Linked DNA regions of Homo sapiens: region 1 is linked to region 2. The links come from fine-mapping of genetic effects on plasma protein levels. Region 2 holds a variant in brackets. A gene starts in the other region. All regions are shown on their reverse strands.

Region 1 (8,333 bases), not on the chromosome of region 2:
GGGCAGCTACAGAATCGACACGGTCAGCACAGGCTGGGTAAACATAGCCCTCTCTCCCAGGCCTGGGATTAGCCACACAAAGAAAGGGAAAGGCACAGGGCTTAGAGGCAAATTCCACGGGCTCAATCCAGCCTTTACAGTCAGTGACCCAGCCCTTTACGGTCACTGACTCGGCCAGAGATAGGGTCAGGAGACAAGGGCTCCAATGTGTCCTCTGTTACATCCAGTTGCACAAACCTAAAAAGCAATTCAATACTCTGGGCCTCAGGTCCCTCATCTGTCAAATGGGGACTCAAGAATGTGGAAGTTCGGGGCTAGAGTTTATTATTACCCTGGCCTGGGAGACCAGGGCTTGTGGGTGGTTAGCACATAGTATTTGCGCTGCTTGTGGGAGACATAATTATGTTAATTAAAAGACATGCTACAGATCCCACGTGAATAAGTGGAAGAGCTGAAATTGAAGCCCAGACTTGTCTGATGCAGATGAAATTGAAGCAGCACTTTGCAGACTCTAACCTGTGCACACAACACTGGGATCTTGATCAAATGCAGTTTCTGAGGTAGCAGGCCTGGGGTGCCCACCTGAATAGGGGTAGGCAGGTGAGGAAGAGCAGTTTCTCCATGCATTTGAAAGCCCAGAAGCTCAGAGGACCCAGGAGCTCAATAGCGTTGTTATTAATCAATAGAGTAGAGGGCAAAATTTTACAAATTATCCAATCCTTTAAGCCTGCACTGTCCCACACAGCAGCCATTAGTAACATATGGCTACTGAGCACATGTAATTAGTCCATATTATTACTTATACTGTGCTATAAGCGTAACATACACATCATATTTTGAAAATTCAGAATGGAAAAAATAATGTAAAATATCTGCCTAATAATTCTTATATTGATTATACATTAACATGCTCATCTTTTGGATATATTGGGTTTCATAAAATGTAATATGAAAATTAATTTCACCTATTTCTTTTTACTTTTTATGATGTGGCTACTAGAACATTTTGCATTACCTATGTGGCTCACATTATAGGTCTAGTGGACAGAGCTTCTTGCTTTTTTCCAAACTCACCCAGTTCATTCCCACCTCGGAGTCTTTGCGCCTGCTGTTCCTTTTGTCTGGATGCTCTCATCAACCCTGACCCCCATTTTTCATTTTTCTGTGGAGATGGGATCTCACTATGTTGCCCAGGCTGGGCTCAAACTTTTGGGTTCAAACAGTCCTCCCACCTCGGCCTGGCAAAGGCACCCCCAATTTTCATATAGCCGCTTCCTCACTTGACCCAGGTGTCTGCTCAAAGTCAGCTCCTCAGAGAGACCCTCCTGGACCACCTGAGCTAACACAACCACTGTGACTCTCAGGAGCCCCTTCCCCTAGTTTACAATTGTTTGTAGCACTTCTCACTACTGGAAATCATATATTCATTTATTTATTGTCTGTCCTTCTTCTGGAAAGTAAGCCCTAAAAGGGACAGATTGGGGTGAGCAGGTGAGGGGCTGTATCTGCTCAGGCTTCCCTGGCCCAGGAGGCACTGAGTCAGACAAAGGGGCCATTCCTGAAGGAACCTGTGCCCGGGGCTACCAAAGCAGGGAGGCACAGGAGGGCAGTCAGGTGGCCGTGCCTAGATAGAGGTTTGAGGGCAGACTGGGTGTGACAAGCCTCTGACGTTGGGATAAGATCCTGCCGCCCTTGGGTGGACAGGTGGATGAGAAATCAAAGGCGGCATTATTTGCTGGTGTTAGGTGGATGCGCACCCCAGGCCGGGTGTTAGGCTGAGCCTGGTTTCTTTGGCTCTCACAACTTCCCTGTGCAATAAATCTGACTCCTCCTTTTATAGAGATGGAACTGAGGCTCAGAGGGATCAAATAATTGGCCCGGATCACACAGCAGGTGCAGAGCCAGGACTCACACCCACCTTCCATCTACTAATCCCATCTCTGACTGAGAATGAGGGTCTGCTCCAGTTTCAGGGAGCCCTGTAGACAATAGGGTGTGGCAAAACAGGTAAGGGAGAGAGAAACTGAAGTCTCCAAAGCCAGAGGCTGGTACTGGGAATCCCAGCATGCCAGCTATGGGCTGGGGAGGGACTTTCAGTATCAGCTCCAACTGTGTGGGTAGAGGAGACTGAGTCCCAGAGAGGGGCAGGGGTCGAGAGGGGGTACCCATGAAGAAAGATGCCAAGCCCATTTTACAGAAGGGCAACTAAGTCTGGGGGAGGAGCATTGCATGCCCCCTCCTCTGAGAGGTACCCACCTTGGGGTTGAGGGACTGTGGCTTGCCCGCCTGGGTCTGGTGATCTGAGGCCATGGTGGACTGTCCTGTGCAGGAATGACCTGGAAGACATGGGAAGCAGCAGTGAGGACCTGGAGGGGCCACTGGCTTTTTCACTCTGTGGGGCCTTGAGACCACTCCCCTCTGGCCCCAAACATTCTCTTTTTCTCCTGGTTTCAGACTGTCCCAGAGCTGTGGGGTCCGTAAGCAGCTACTTCAACTTCTGTCCTTAGCTTCATTTATTTCTATCCAGGCCAGCTGCAGGAGGAGGGAAAAACGAGGTCTACTCAAAGAAAGAGAGCAGTAATAAACTAGAGCTTAAATGAGGTCCAAAGTGGGTTCCCAACACTCAACCCCAGACAATGGATACCACACAGAATATAGAATGGTCAATCCCAGAACTTCTGCCTTTATGCAGTAATTTCTTAAATAAAATTGTGTGGAACAAACAAAACCTATGCATTGGCTGTATTTGGTGGTGTGGTGGTGCCCAGTTTAGGAACTCACAAAGTTCCCTGTTCCCCTGCTCCTTCTCCCACCCTCTCCCTGGGACTCCTCTCCCCATCCTGGTACCTAGATTTCTCTTCTCTGCCACTGGTTTTACTCCCCCATTAGTGAAATCATCTGATACAGAACCCACATTACAAGAAAGAGAAGAAATGGGTGCGACGGTAGAAATCCAGGCACTGTGGCAGGCAGCAGGGTAGACCTGCCTTAGCTAGTGAGAACATCAGAAAAGCCTGGAAAATTGTCAGCCTCTTCCCCCTTCCTGCAGAAGGGGTGGTCAAACCAGGCTGTGTTTCCCCAGGGGTAAGAGAGGAAGCCTGGCCTCCCTCTTCAGAGATAACGCCAGCTTCCAGAAGCCCCTTCCACATGAAAGGCCAATACTGGATGTTTCCCAGGAGGAAGAAATGCAGTTAAGCACCTTGGCAGCCAAATCTACTGCTCTCCCGCAAGAAACCAGCCCTCTGGGCTTGTCAGAGTGCCTGAGGTCCTGCCATATCACTTCCCAGTCCTGAGTGTTCACAGACTGAAGAAGCTCAGTTGGTCCAGTTCAGGAGCAGTCTCTGCTGCCTGCCAGAATTGAGACTCTGGGCAGGTCTCATCCTCTCCCTATGCCTCAACTTCCTGTTCTATAAAATGGGGACAGTAATGATGTCTAATAATACCTGTGAACAGGTTGTGAGGATTCAATTATGTAATGTATAAAACCGGAAGCACTTGGCCGTGGTCCCAGAACACACTCAGCATGCAGCAAATGGCAGCAATTGTGGCATTATTAGAGTCATTTCTACCATGCTTTAGTGGCATTGAAATCACCTGTTGCTGGGACCTGTCACATACCTGTGGCTGCATCCTATCCCCTAGCACTCCCAGAGGCTAGGCACAGAGTGGGTGCCCCCTAATTGCAGATGTGGAGGAAAACTGACTCACCCACCTAGAAACAATGCTGAACTGTCACTGGTTTGATTCTTGCAAAACCCTCAGTTACATTCTCCTCCTCAGCGACTGGCGAAACAAGGATGCTGATAGTCTGTTTAATATTAATAATAAAGAACATTGCCCCAATGCCCACTGTGTGCCAGGCACTGTGCTGGATGATCCCCTAACTTCTCTTGAATCCTTACAATAAAGAAGGCTTTTTAACCCCCTTCCCAGTTACCAGAAAAGAAAACTGAGGCTAACAGCATTGAAGTCTCTGCCCAAAGTCACTTGTCAGAATCTGGGTGCTCCCATGCTTGCGGACAGGGGTGAGGATGAGAGAAAGAAGGGAAGACAAGCAAGAGAGGCAATCTTACCAGTGACACCAGCCCCTGCGAGTGCCGTGAAGCTCGGCCAGCGGGAGGTGGCATTTATACCTTCCCCAGAAGTGCCGGTGCCAAGATGAGTGACCGCTGTGCTCCTGCGAAAAGCAGGGTGAGAATGCTGGATTAAGCTCTCACCAAAGCTCGGGTCAGCAAATGCCCACAGACATTGTGTCTCTGCACAATAATGTCATTAGCTTTCAGATTCGGCCGCGCCAGGGCGGTCAGGCGGCTGGGCAAGGAGATGCCCGCTTTGCATGCATCAGCCGTCCGGCTGCCAGGGCCAGGGGTACGCTGGGTTCACTGGTACGGTCAGTCAGGCCGTGAGGCATGGCAGACAGAGGAACATCTCAGTGGGCCTGGGGAAGAACAAGTAAAGAAGGGTGGTTTGGCAGAGTCTGGGCTTCATTCATCTACCCATTTATTCATTCAACAAATATTTGTTGGGCATCCACTTGGTGACAATCTCTGTTCCAGGGGAGTGTCAGGAAGAGGACCTACGCCAGCCCAGGCCATTCAGAAAAGCTCCTGGGAGGTAGCGCATCCCTCAGGGATGGAGAAGAGGAAGCCTGGGAACAGGGTGGGGGGACAGTTCCAAGCAGAAAGGGTCCATATACAAGGAACCAGCATGGTGTATTTCAAGAAGACCTGAAAACAGGTTAACAAAGCTAAAGCATGACATGTGACAAATAGGGCCTGTGCCAGGTGGCCAAGGTGGGCAGGGCCTGATGTTGCAGGGCCAGGGAGGCCAATTATGGAGAGTGCATTTTATTCTCAAGGCCCCTGGCTGTTTCTCTTTCTTTTCTTTCTTTCTTTCTTTCTCTTTCTTTCTTTCTTTCTTTCTTTCTTTCTTTCTTTCTTTCTTTCTTTCTTTCTTTCTTCTCTCTCTCTCTCTCTCTCTCTCTCTCTCTCTCTCTCTCTCTCCCCTCTCTCTCTCTCTCTCTCTCTCTCTCCCCCTCTCTCTCTCTCTTTCTTTCTTTCTCTTTCTTTCTTTTGAGATGGAATCTCACTCTGTCACCCAGGCTGGAGTGCAGTGGTGTGATCTCGGCTCACTGCAACCTCTGCCTCCCAGGTTCAAGCGATTCTCCTGCCTCAGCCTCACCAGTAGCTGGGACTACAGGTGTGCGCCACCAGGTCCAGCTAAATTCTTTTTTTTGCTGTATCTTGTTAGAGACAGGGTTTTGACATGTTGCCCAGGGTGGTCTCAAACTCCTGAGCTCAGGCAATCCATCCACCTTGGCCTCCTAAAGTGCTGGGATTCCAGGCATGAGCCACTGCACCCGGCCTGTTTCTTAACCACTGTCCTAGAGTGAGTTGCTCTTAGATCCCTACCACTGGCCCCATCGCTGCCACATGGGTGCCCAGCCTTTACTCACATTTCTTTTCTATTTTTTTTTTTTTTGAGATGGAGTCTCGCTCTGTCGCCCAGGCTGGAGTGCAGTGGCACGATCTCAGCTCACTGCAAGCTCTGCCTCCCGTGTTCACACCATTCTCCTCCTTCAGCCTCCCTAGTAGCTGGGACTACAGGCGCCCGCCAACACGCCCGGCTAATTTTTTGTATTTTTAGTAGAGACGGTGTTTCACTGTGTTAGCCAGGATGGTCTCGATCTCCTGACCTCATTATCCGCCCGTCTCGGCCTCCCAAAGTGCTGGGATTACAGGCGTGAGCCACCGCGCCCGGCCTTTACTCATGTTTCTTTAGTGCACACACCTTCCTTGCAGCCCAGGCTGTGTCTTGATCCAATCTGAGGCTTGGAGACTGGGTCAAGTATACCTGCTTTCCCCTGTCTCTCATTTTCTTAATGCACATATGCATGCACACGCATGCACACACACTACACACACATGCCCCAGCCCCCTAGCTGGGCTTTTCCTTTTGCAGCACTCATCACTACCCAACATTCTGTTACTCATTTATTTTCTGTCTTTCCAATGAGAAGATAAGCACCACAAAAGCAAAGAAGTTGTCCCCCTGGTTTACCATGGTATCTCCAGAGCCCAGTGCCTGACGCATAGTAGGTACTTGTTTTAAAATCCCAGGGCTGGCCGGGCACAGCGGCTCACGCCTGTAATCCCAGCACTTTGGGAAGCCAAGCCAGGCGGATCACCTGAGGTTGGGAGCTCGAGACCTGCCTGAGCAACATGGAGAAACCCCGTCTCTACTAAAAATACAAAATTAGCCGGGCATGGTGGCACATGCCTGTAATCCCAGCTACTCGGGAGGCTGAGGCAGGAGAATCACTTGAACCCACGAGGCAGAGGATGCAGTGAGCCAAGATCATGGCATTGCACTCCAACCTAGGCAACAAGAGCAAAACTCTGTCTCAAAGAAAATAAATAAATAAATAACATAAAATAAATCCCAGGGCTGCTGTAATAAAGTGTCACAAACTAAGTGGCTTAAAAACAACAGAAATTGGGAATGTAAAATGGTGTTGCCACTACGGAAAACAGTGTGGCTGTCTCAAAAAAAAAAAAAAAATCCAACATAGAATTACCATATGAGCCAGCCATTCCACTTCTGTGCACGTGCCCCAAAGAATTGAAAGCAGGGAATTGAAGAGATATTTACACACCCATGTTCATAGCAGCATTATTCACAATAGCCGAAAGATGGAAACCACCCAAATGTCCATCAACGGATGAATGGATAAACACTATGTGGTCTATCCATACAATGGAATATTATTCAGCCTTAAAAAGAAAGGAAATTCTGACTCCAACATGATGAGGTTTGAAAATGTTATGCAAAGTGAAATAAACCAGACACAAAAGGACAAATATTGTATGATTCCACTTACATAAGTTACCTAGGGTAGGCAAATTCATGGAGACTGGAAGTAGAATAGAGGTTACTGGGGGCTGGGAGGAGCGGGGAATGGGGAGTTATTGTTTAATGGGTACAGAGTTTCTGTTTGGGATGATGGAAAAGCTGGGGATGGATAGTGGTGATGGTCCCATAACAATGCCACTGAACTGTACTCTTAAAAATGGTTAAAATGGTTAATTTTATGCTATGCAGTATTTTACCACAAAAATGTCCCCCAAAAAACCCCAGAAGTTTATTGTTGTGTAATTCTGGAGGCTGGAAGCCTGACATCAAGCTGTCAGCAGGGCCATGCCTGCTCCAGGGGTTCTAGGTGAGGGTCCTTCCTTGTCTCTCCCAGCCCTTTGTGTTTGCCGGTAATTGTTCATGTTCCTTGGATGGGAGGTGCATCACTTTAATCACGTGACTGTCTTCTCCCTGTATCTTCACATCATCTTCCCTTAGTGCATGGCTGATTCTATGTCTAAATTTCTGTGCCTATAAGGATACCAGTCATGTTGGCTTAGGTGACTTCACTAGGCAACTTCACCCTGATGACTTTGTTTCAAATTGGTTCCTTCTGTAAAGACCCTATTTCCAAATAGAAGGTCACATTCTGAGGTACTGGGGGTTAGGACTTTGGAATATCTTTTATGGACACAGGTCAGCCCATAATAGACCTCAGTTAATATTTGTTGAGTAAATGAATGGATTCAAGACCTGGCTGTGTCCTTATAAATAAGAAAGAATTCCTAACATTTCGATTGTATCAGAGCTTGACATGAGTCAGGCACTGTCCATACTCATCTTTTTTTAATCCTCCCAACAAACTCAAGATGTAAGTATTGTATTTATTGATCATTCCATTTTATAAAAGAGAAAATTGAGGCTCAGAGAGACTAAGCCACTTGCCCAAATTTGCACAGCTAGTGAGTAGTAGGACTAGGCTTTATGGATTAAGCCCTGAAACTGTCTGGTTCCATTAATTCAATCCTCACAACTATCTTTGAAGTAGGTATTATTAATGTCCCCTAATACAGATAAGGAAGCTAAGGCTCATAGAGCTTAAGTAACTTGTTCGAGGTCACACAGCCAGGAAGTGGTAGGACCAGTGCTTGAACTTACATCAGTCTGACTTCAAGATAAACGTTCTTAACTTTTAAACTATAAAGCTTCCTACTGAGCTCTGGGAATTTAGTGAAGTTTTTCTTCTCCAGGCCTCAATTTCCCCATAAGAAATGAGGTCCTTGGTGCCAAGACCAGCTCGGTCAGGGAGACCCTAACCAGTGGCGCTAGAGGAATTAAAGACACACACACAGAAATATGGAGATGTGGAATGGGAAATCAGGGGTCTCATAGCCTTCAGAGCTGAGAGCCTCGAACAGAGATTTACCCATGTATTTATTAACAGCAAGCCAGTGATAAGCATTGTTTCTATAGATTATAGA
Region 2 (8,333 bases):
CCTGTTCTTGATTTCAGAAAGGGTGAAGCTGGAAGGAGGAATTAAAGATTGATCTTGATATTCCAGTTGGAATGTTGAGTATAACATCTCTGCTTTAACCAGAAATAAAAGATGACAGGAGGAGAAACTGGCTTTTCAAGGGGATGAAGTTGAAAAGTAATGACAATTATTCACTTTTGGAGAAAATTTGTGACATTTCTTGAGAGTATAATCAGAACAGTTCCTTATAATTTGCATAGCATTTTAACATTTCCAAAGTGCTTTTACATACTACTTCCTTTTTTTTTTTTCCATTTATGCCTGATGTATCAGGATAGGCAGGGCAGGTATTACCCTGTTTTCCATCCTGCAGATGAAGGAGGGGAAGCTCAGCTAGGTGGGGGGTTTGCCTGAGTTTTGTTCTGAGTCAATAGGCTCTTCTGGTATCAAGGGGTGGGTTGGGGGTAAGGTTCTGATCTTGGCTTCTACCCACTTGCTGTATAAGAAAGTACCTCAGCTTTCTGAGGGTTGGAGAATGTGGGGTGGAGAATATCTGCACCATTAGACTCATACGATGGAGAAGGCCAGATAACATAACGTAAGTGTAAGAATGCTGATGAATATAAAACAGGATGCAAATGTCAATCTTATTAAGGTTATGATGTTATCCTGCTGGAGCTGGGAATCTGTTGGTCCCAGGGTGGGGAGGTGGGGAGGCCCAGGGTTCTGCCTGGCTCCACAGGCTTAGCTGCTGGTGCAGTGTACAAGGGTGGGAGTGCAGGGCTCTGAGACAAGGTGGAGATGACTATCCACGGTCAAGGCAGGGAAGTCTGAGGGCTCACGTGGACTCTGGATTTGGATTCAGAGGCCTTAGGGTTGAACATGATTTTCACTGTGTCCTGGACCTTGGGTAAGATATTGGATCTCTCTGAATCTCAGTTTCCTTATCTTCGAAATGTTACATTACACACCCTGGAAATATGGAACTACTTATATGTTTCCCATACTTGCTGTGGCTCTGTGCCTTGATAAAGTCCTGTTCCCTTAAGCAGTTAGATAGAAGATGCAACACAACTGGCTTTGGAGGAAGGGGCCATGGGTCAAGGAATGCAGGTGGCTTCTAGGAGCTGAAAAAGATAAGGAAACTGACCTTGATGCTGGCCCAGTGAGACTGATTTCGGACGTTCTGACCTCCAGAACTGTAAGACAGTAAATCTGTGTTGTTTTAAGCTACTGAGTTTGTAGTAATTTGTTAGAGTAGCAATAGGAACTGATACCATGCGTTTAAGACTTATCCATGTTACTGCATGTATGGGTGCGTTCCACTGTGTGGCTGCATGGCAACTTGCTTATTCATTTACCAACTGATGAGCACTTGGGTGTTCCCAAGTTTTGGCCATTATGCAGAAAGCTGCTATGAATATTCCTATTTATAGGTCTTTGTGTAGACATATGTTTTTATTTCTTTTGAGCAAATCTCTGGGAGAAATGAAAATATAATTGTATATTTAACTTTAAAAGAAATTGCCAAACTGCTTTCCAAAGTGGCTGTACCAGTTAGCATTCCCACACGCAGTGTGTAAGAGTCGTAGTTATTCTATATCCTTGCCAGAGCTTGGCATTGTCAGCCTTTTAAATTTTAGCCATTATAATAGATGTTTAACGGTATCTCATTGTGATTTTAATTGCATTTCCCTGCTAACTAATAATGTTGAACCTTTTTTTTTTGATGTGCTTTTTGGCCATCTGTATCTTTTCTTTTGTGAAATGTCTGTTCAGTTCTTTGACCTTAAAAGAAATGGAGTCATTTGTCTTCTTATTGAGTTTTAGGAGTTCTTTATATATTCTGACTAAACATCCTTTATCAGATATATGTTTTGCAAATATTTTCTCTCAGTCTGTAGCTTGTGTTTTCATTTTCATATTAGTGCCTTTCAAAGAGTAGACATTTAAAATGTTGGTGAAGTCCAATGTATCAATTTTTTTCCTTTACGACTCATGCATTTTATGTCCTATTTAAGAAAATTTTTGCTTAACCCAAGGTTAGAAAAAGTTTCTTCCAAGTTTTCTTTCTGAAGTTTGAAAGTTTTAGTCTTCCATTTAGCTCTACGATCCATGTCGAGTTAATTTTTTTTTTTTTTTGGAGACGGAGTCTCGCTCTGTCGCCTAGGCTGGAGTGCAGTGGCGCGATCTCGGCTCACTGCAACATCTGCCTTCCCGGTTAAGCAGTTCTCCTCAGCCTCCCAAGTAGCTGGGCTTACAGGCACCTGCCATCATGACCAGCTAATTTTTATATTTTTAGTAGAGACGGGGTTTCACCTTGTTGGCCAGGCTGGTCTCAAACTCCTGGTCTCAAGAGATCCGTCTGCTTCAGCCTCCCAAAGTGCTGGGATTACAGGTGTCAGCAACCACACCCCGCTCAAGTTAATTTTTATCTAGGGTATGAGGTAAGAATTAAAATATTGAAAAAGTTCTTTTTGGTAATGTCTTTAACTGGTTTTGGTATCAGGGTAATTCTGGCCTCATCAAATGTGTTAGCATTGTGCCAGGCACTGTAGAGAATATAAAAGTCAGATCTAATCCCTGCTGGACTCTCTCTCTCGCTCTCACACACATCCCCCAAGTATGATGAAGGCAGAGTTTGGTGAGCATAGAAGAGAAGTGCATATGAACTGCTATGGGCTTTCAAAGAAGGGTGAAGGCCTGGGAAGCCTCAGAATCATCTTCATGAAGGAGGGACACTCAGGAAGGGCCTTAGGAGGGCTGCACCATTGCCTCACTCTGGGGGCACCATTCAAATGACAGTCAGTTGAGTGATCCAGGGCCACGTCGCCTGCAACATGGAGGGTACCCGTCTGGAGTTTTTAAAAAAAGTGGCCCTGCTAAACAAGAAAAGGTCTACTAGCTGAGAGACTATCAGCCGGTAGAGATGGGGAAAGGTGGGTGGGGTGGACAAGAAACCATGTACTGGGCGAGAGAGAATTCTATTAAAGTATGCCTTTGCCTCGCCAACCTCTGAATTAAACTCCCATTGTTCTGCATCCTTCCCACACTGATTATGGTGCCGGAGGGCCCTGGAGAGGAAGGTGGGAAGGAGGGGGACCAGCCGTCATGGAGCCCCTCATCTCTGTGCTCGAGCCCCAGCATCCATCATCTCATTTAGTCCTCTCACCAACTCTGTAAGAGCAGCTTCATTATTTGCATTTTTGCAGATTAAAAAATGAGATTCATAAAGGTTAAGTGCCCTGCCTGGGGTCAGCCGCTAGTGAGCAGGGGAGCCTAGTTGCAGTCCAGCCCCCTGGCTGCCTTTGGCCCCTGCAACACTATCTCTCACTGCTCTGACAAAATGTCATTTCTGAGGAAGGCAGGCACACAGACCCAAAAGGAATGGGTGCCGGGGGGGAGGCCAGGATGAGATATTTGTGAGTGGGTTTGTTCTGATGTAGCAAAAACTCTCTCGTTGCTGTGGGCTGGGAAGTGGCTGACTGGCTGCGTGGTCAGAGTTTGCAAA[G/A]CTTTTGCAGATCCTTTTGCTAGAGGGGCTTTAAAAGCTGCAAGCGCTCAGCAGTTCCTATCAGCTGGGATTTTTTTCCTCCAGATTGAATCCTGTCAGGGTTTTACTGGCTCATCTGTTCCCAGAATGACACCATGTCCCCTCACCTGAGCAGCACGGCCTTGCCACCCACGGTACTCCCTGCTACCAGACGGCTCCCGGAAGGAATTCTTCACCAGCCCTATTTTTTGTCCCCTGAACCCCTCTCCTGACTCTCTCAAAACCCTCTGGTTTCTCCCAGAATTTGGAGCCAAGCCCATCAGGGACAAAGGAATGCTGGGACCTTGTTTGGATCTCAGATTTGGTGGTTTGCTCCCCTTCCTGGTGTCATGGTTTGAAGCATTTTCGAAGGAGCCCCCGAAAAGCAAGGACAGTGTGGAGAGGCTGATGCCCAGAGGCGATGCGGTGTGTCTGGGAAACCAGAGGGGACCCTGCCTGCAAGTTCCCATTGCCCCCAACCCCATTCCTATCCCTATGAGCCCCTGGCCCTTCTTCGCCAGTGCCTGTATCCTCAGAGCCCTCTCAGGGAGCCTCACCCGCCAGCCTCTGGGCGTTTGGCTTCCCGTCTTTTGTTTGGTCACCATGGGCCCTGCCACTGCCAACTCAGGCAAACAGAGCTTGGGCCAGCCCTGGGCTGCCCAGCCTCCCGGACGCATTGCACACTGCTCTGTGTCAGCAGAAAAAGTGTACATGACAAGTGGCATACTAGAGCGCCCTCTCCCCCCAGGCCTAGCTACAAAGCCTCCATGCCCTGCTGAGCCCTGCCCACCGGGCCCAGCGTACTCTCCGTACTCTCCGCTCCGCCAGCAGTGTTTCAGGAATCCTGAGGTGCAGCTCAGGTGGCTCTCGGTGACGTCATGGGAAGTGTTCTGGGTCGGTTCCCTTTGCCTCCCTGCCTCCACCTCCTTCCCAGACTTGCCGAGGATGTTGCCTCCAAGCCCCTCCCAGCTCCCAAAATACCAACCCTGCCTCCTGGCCCTGCCAGAAAACGCTTAGCACATTAGCGGGTTTAGCTGCCACAGTGGCAGTCAGTTGGGAGGCTGCAGAGGCACATAGATTTCATTCTGGAATTCTTTCCAGCTCCTCGCTATTTTGACAACACTGGGCAATGCTGTTACCAGGAACCTGCCCTGCCTGTGGGATGGGAGAGGCTGGGGGCCGGGGGTGGGGATGGGAAAAAGGTAAGCGGGGCTGGTGGGAGCAGCCTCAGGGTAAGGGACTATGAGAGAAGGTGGGGGACTACACTGGTATCTCATGGTGCTGCAGCCACTTTGGTCTTTAACTTGGTCTTTAACATGGCTGGCCTCCCTCCTTGCCTCCTGGAGCTCACTTGGGGCAGATCTTAGATACAAGAGACCTCAGTGCAGGGGCTTCTGTTTGAAGGAGGCAAGAGGTTCCAAGACGGCAGGAGAGGCAGCAAGACAGGCTGAAAGAAAACAGCCACACCAATGTTGTCTTGGACTCAAGACTTTACTGCAGCTCCCTCTCTGCCGCTCCAGGGCTGGGTGCCCTGGAGCAAGCCACCAACTCTCCAAAACTCAGTGTTCTCATCTGCAGAATGGGAGTAACCTACAGCTTGCCCTTCCCATCTCAATGTGAGATGGGGGGATCTACAAGAGACAATATATGTGAAAGTGTTTTGCAAAGTGTAAAGTGACTAACATTTGTGTGCCTAGGAGCTCTGGAAGGCAGGGCCTATGTCTTGTTTATATTTGAATTCCTCTATCATGTCTGGTTTATTGGGTAGAAAAATAAATGTGGAGACTTTTTGGAAATTTCTGACTTGCCTCATTGGTGATCGGTGTGGTGAAGGATAGTAAGGTTCTGGGTGTATTAGTTTGTTAGGGTGGCTGTAAGTGCCACAGACTGGGTAACTTCACAGAAATTTATTTTATCATAGTCTGGAGGCTAAAAGTCCAAGATCAAGGTGTTGGCAAGGTTGGTTCCTTCTGAGGGCTGTGAGGAAGAATCTGTTCCAGGCCTCTCTGCTGGCTTCTGGGGCTTGGCTGGCAGTCTTATCTTTGGCATTCCTTGCTTTGTAGGCACATCACCCCAATCTCTTCCTTCATGGGGCAAACTTCCCTTTTTTATAAGGACACTAATTGATATGATTTGAATGTTTGTCCCCTGCAAAGCTCATGCTGAAATGTGATTCCCAATGTTGGAGGTGAGGCCTGGTGGGAGATTATTAGACCATGAGGGTGGATCTCTCACGAATGGCTTAGCACCGTCCACTTGGTGATGAGTGAAGTCTCACCCAGTTAGTTCACACAAGATCTGGTTGTTTGAAAGTCTGGGACTTCCCACCCTTGCTGCCTTGGTCTTGCTCTCACCATGTGACACGCCTGCTCTCCTTTTCACCTTCCGCCATGATTGTAGCTTCCTGAAGCCTCACCAGAAGCAGATGCCGGCACCGTGGTTGCTCTACAGCCTGCAGAACTGTGAAATATACCTCTTTTCTTTACAAATTACCAAGTCTTAGGCATTCCTTTATAGTAATACAAATGGACTAACTCACTAGTCCTGTAAGATTAGGGCTCACTCTATTCCAGTGTGACTTCATCTTGACTAACTATATCTGCAATGATTCTGTTTCCAGCAATGACAGTCTGGGGTCTTCTGAGCCCAGGGCCCAGCTCCAGGATCGGGAAGGTCAAGGCAGTGTGCCAGGCCTGGCTGAGAATAGAGAGTTCTTCTGATGAAACGTGATGTGGGTGCTTGCTGGGTGGGGGACCCTATTTTCTACTGCCATTCTTGGATTTGGAGGCAGATCTTTGTTTCTTAGAGTTATTCTTTTCCCTTTCTGAGTAGTTCCTGTGAAGTAGAGTCATGCCATTTGTGTGTGAGACCCAGCTGCTGCACCAGTTCTAACTCTTCACCCCCTTCTTTTTCATGCCCCTCTTTCCCTTCAAGTCACTAACCCCACACACGCCCACCTTCCTCTGCAGCCCGGAAGCTCGGTACACATTTGCTGACGTATTAGAACACACCCTGGCATGAATGTGATTCACATTCTCCGCCCGTCTCTTCCTTCCTCTGTGTCCTGGACCGCAGGCCCTTGCAGTGCATATCTCTGACAGGGGAACCCCCACTATAGGTGTGCTCCCATTTAGCCTGGGTTCAGGCACATCAATGAGCATGTTCTGAGTTGGAGGGATGGGGCGGGTATGTTGCTGGACCACAGCACTGGGATGTTGTGGGAGGGCACGGAGGTGTCTCAGCACTCCGCTGCCCTCTGTATCTGAGGCTTCATTGCCCTTATTCGCATCTTCCCTATGAAATGCTCCAGTTTAGTAAGGGATTGCTATGGAAGAAGGCATTTGTACAAGTCACCCCTGAATAGTAAGAGGGGATCTTCTCTTATAGATTCTCAACATGTACAGGCACAGTGCTAAGTGCTTTCCATCCTTTTTCTCATGTATTTCTCTAAATAACCCCAAGAAGCAGACGCTTTTATATCCCCATTTCTCAGATGGGCAGTTGAGGGTTTGAAAGGAGATGTAAACTGCCCAGAGTCATTCAGCTAGTGAGGGGACTCAAGCACTTGCTTCTAGAACCTCTAGTTCCACCCTCTCATCCACAGGGCGCTCAAGGGGTGGTCAGTGGCCGTTTGCATTGGTATTCCCTGGAGAGCTAAGTGAAAAGTTGGGTTCTTGGGTCTCCTCCTGATCTATGGAATCATAAGAGATTGGGGTGGGACCCAGGAACCAGCTCCCAGTGACAAGCAGGGCTGAGAATCACTGCCTGTGGAGCCCAGTGCCACCTTCCCTTTCTCTTCCACCAGGCGCCGAGGACCTGCCATCAGCCACATGCAGGGTTCTGAAAGGAAGGGCAGGTGTGACCAGGCCTCCCCATGCACTTCTTTCCTCCCTGGTGTAGTGGCCTCAGGAGTGCTGGTGGATGGGGAGCCATCATGCCTGCACATAAGTTGGGAGAGGGTGGCTTGTGTGGCCGTGCTGACCTGCCGACTTCTCACTCTTTCTGGTAACCCCCATGCCCTTCACCGGTGCCATGTTCCCCAAGGTCCTAGATGATGGAGGGACCAGGCCTGGTGTTGGCAGGCAGTGGCCAGGGCCAGGCAGCCCAAGCCCTGTGTGACGATGATGTGGGAGTGTCTGTCTGTGTTGCTGTAATGGAATACCAGGAACTGGATCATTTATAAAGAAAAGAGATTTATTTAGCTTATGGTTCTGCAGGCTGAGAAGTTCAAGGGCATGGCCCTGTCCTCTGGCGAGGGCTTTCCTTCTGCATCACAACATGGCAGGGAAGGTCAAAGGGAAAGTAGACACGTGTGAAGATGGGGAAACCCAAGGGGGCCCTGGTGTTTTAACAACCAACTCTCCAGGGAACTAATTCATTCCTGTGAGAACAAATCCAGTCTTATGAGAGTATGAATATTAGAGCTACAAGGCACTGCCAAGTTAATCTTGTCTAGAGGGCCAGATGAGCAAACAGAGGCTCAGAGAGGTAAAATCACTTGCCTGGGTTCGCACAGCAGGTAGGTAGTATGGTTGGAGCTAGAACCCAAATTAGTAGGATTGCTCCTAGACTCCTAAGAATGCCAAAATCCAAACCATAGCTTCTGAAAACAGATGTCCTTACATGCCCGGAGACCTTTGGCTGGTTTCCTGGTAGAAGAAGCTGTTCAGACCCCTCTCTCTTTCCGGTTCCCTGCTGCTTTGTGCTACTGGAGGGAAGCAACAAGCTGGTTTTTCTCCTCCCAGAATAGGAGGCATCCCTGAAAATGTTGGCCTGGATTTCCAGGCTGACTTTCTAAACACTACCTCATCCTAAGAGTAAATGG

Direction of the effects. Alleles are on the strand shown, and positions count from the first base shown. The strength of an association depends on the size of the effect and on how common the allele is.
With allele G in place of A in region 2, the plasma level of the protein whose gene starts at base 4,101 in region 1 is higher (weak association).

Evidence for each region. PIP is the posterior inclusion probability: the model's chance that the variant is causal. Protein levels are from antibody-based Olink assays in UK Biobank. Linkage for the fine-mapping came from a reference panel and not from the study's own genotypes, which makes the PIPs less certain.
Region 1: CRYBB2 starts here. The variant in region 2 is fine-mapped to the plasma level of the CRYBB2 protein (UK Biobank, PIP above 0.99).

The regions. Positions count from the first base shown.
Region 1 is chr22:25,215,407-25,223,739 of GRCh38, reverse strand. CRYBB2 (crystallin beta B2) reads right to left here and starts at 4,101. Exons shown (of 6, transcript NM_000496.3): 1 at 4,074-4,101; 2 at 2,257-2,336. The coding sequence starts at 2,310.
Region 2 is chr14:72,808,599-72,816,931 of GRCh38, reverse strand. The region is part of intron 1 of DPF3 (double PHD fingers 3); the gene reads left to right. Among named protein-coding and RNA genes, the nearest start is that of DPF3, 81 kb to the left of the region's middle. RefSeq lists an enhancer at 5,919-7,118. The variant G/A (reference allele first, on the strand shown) is at 3,491.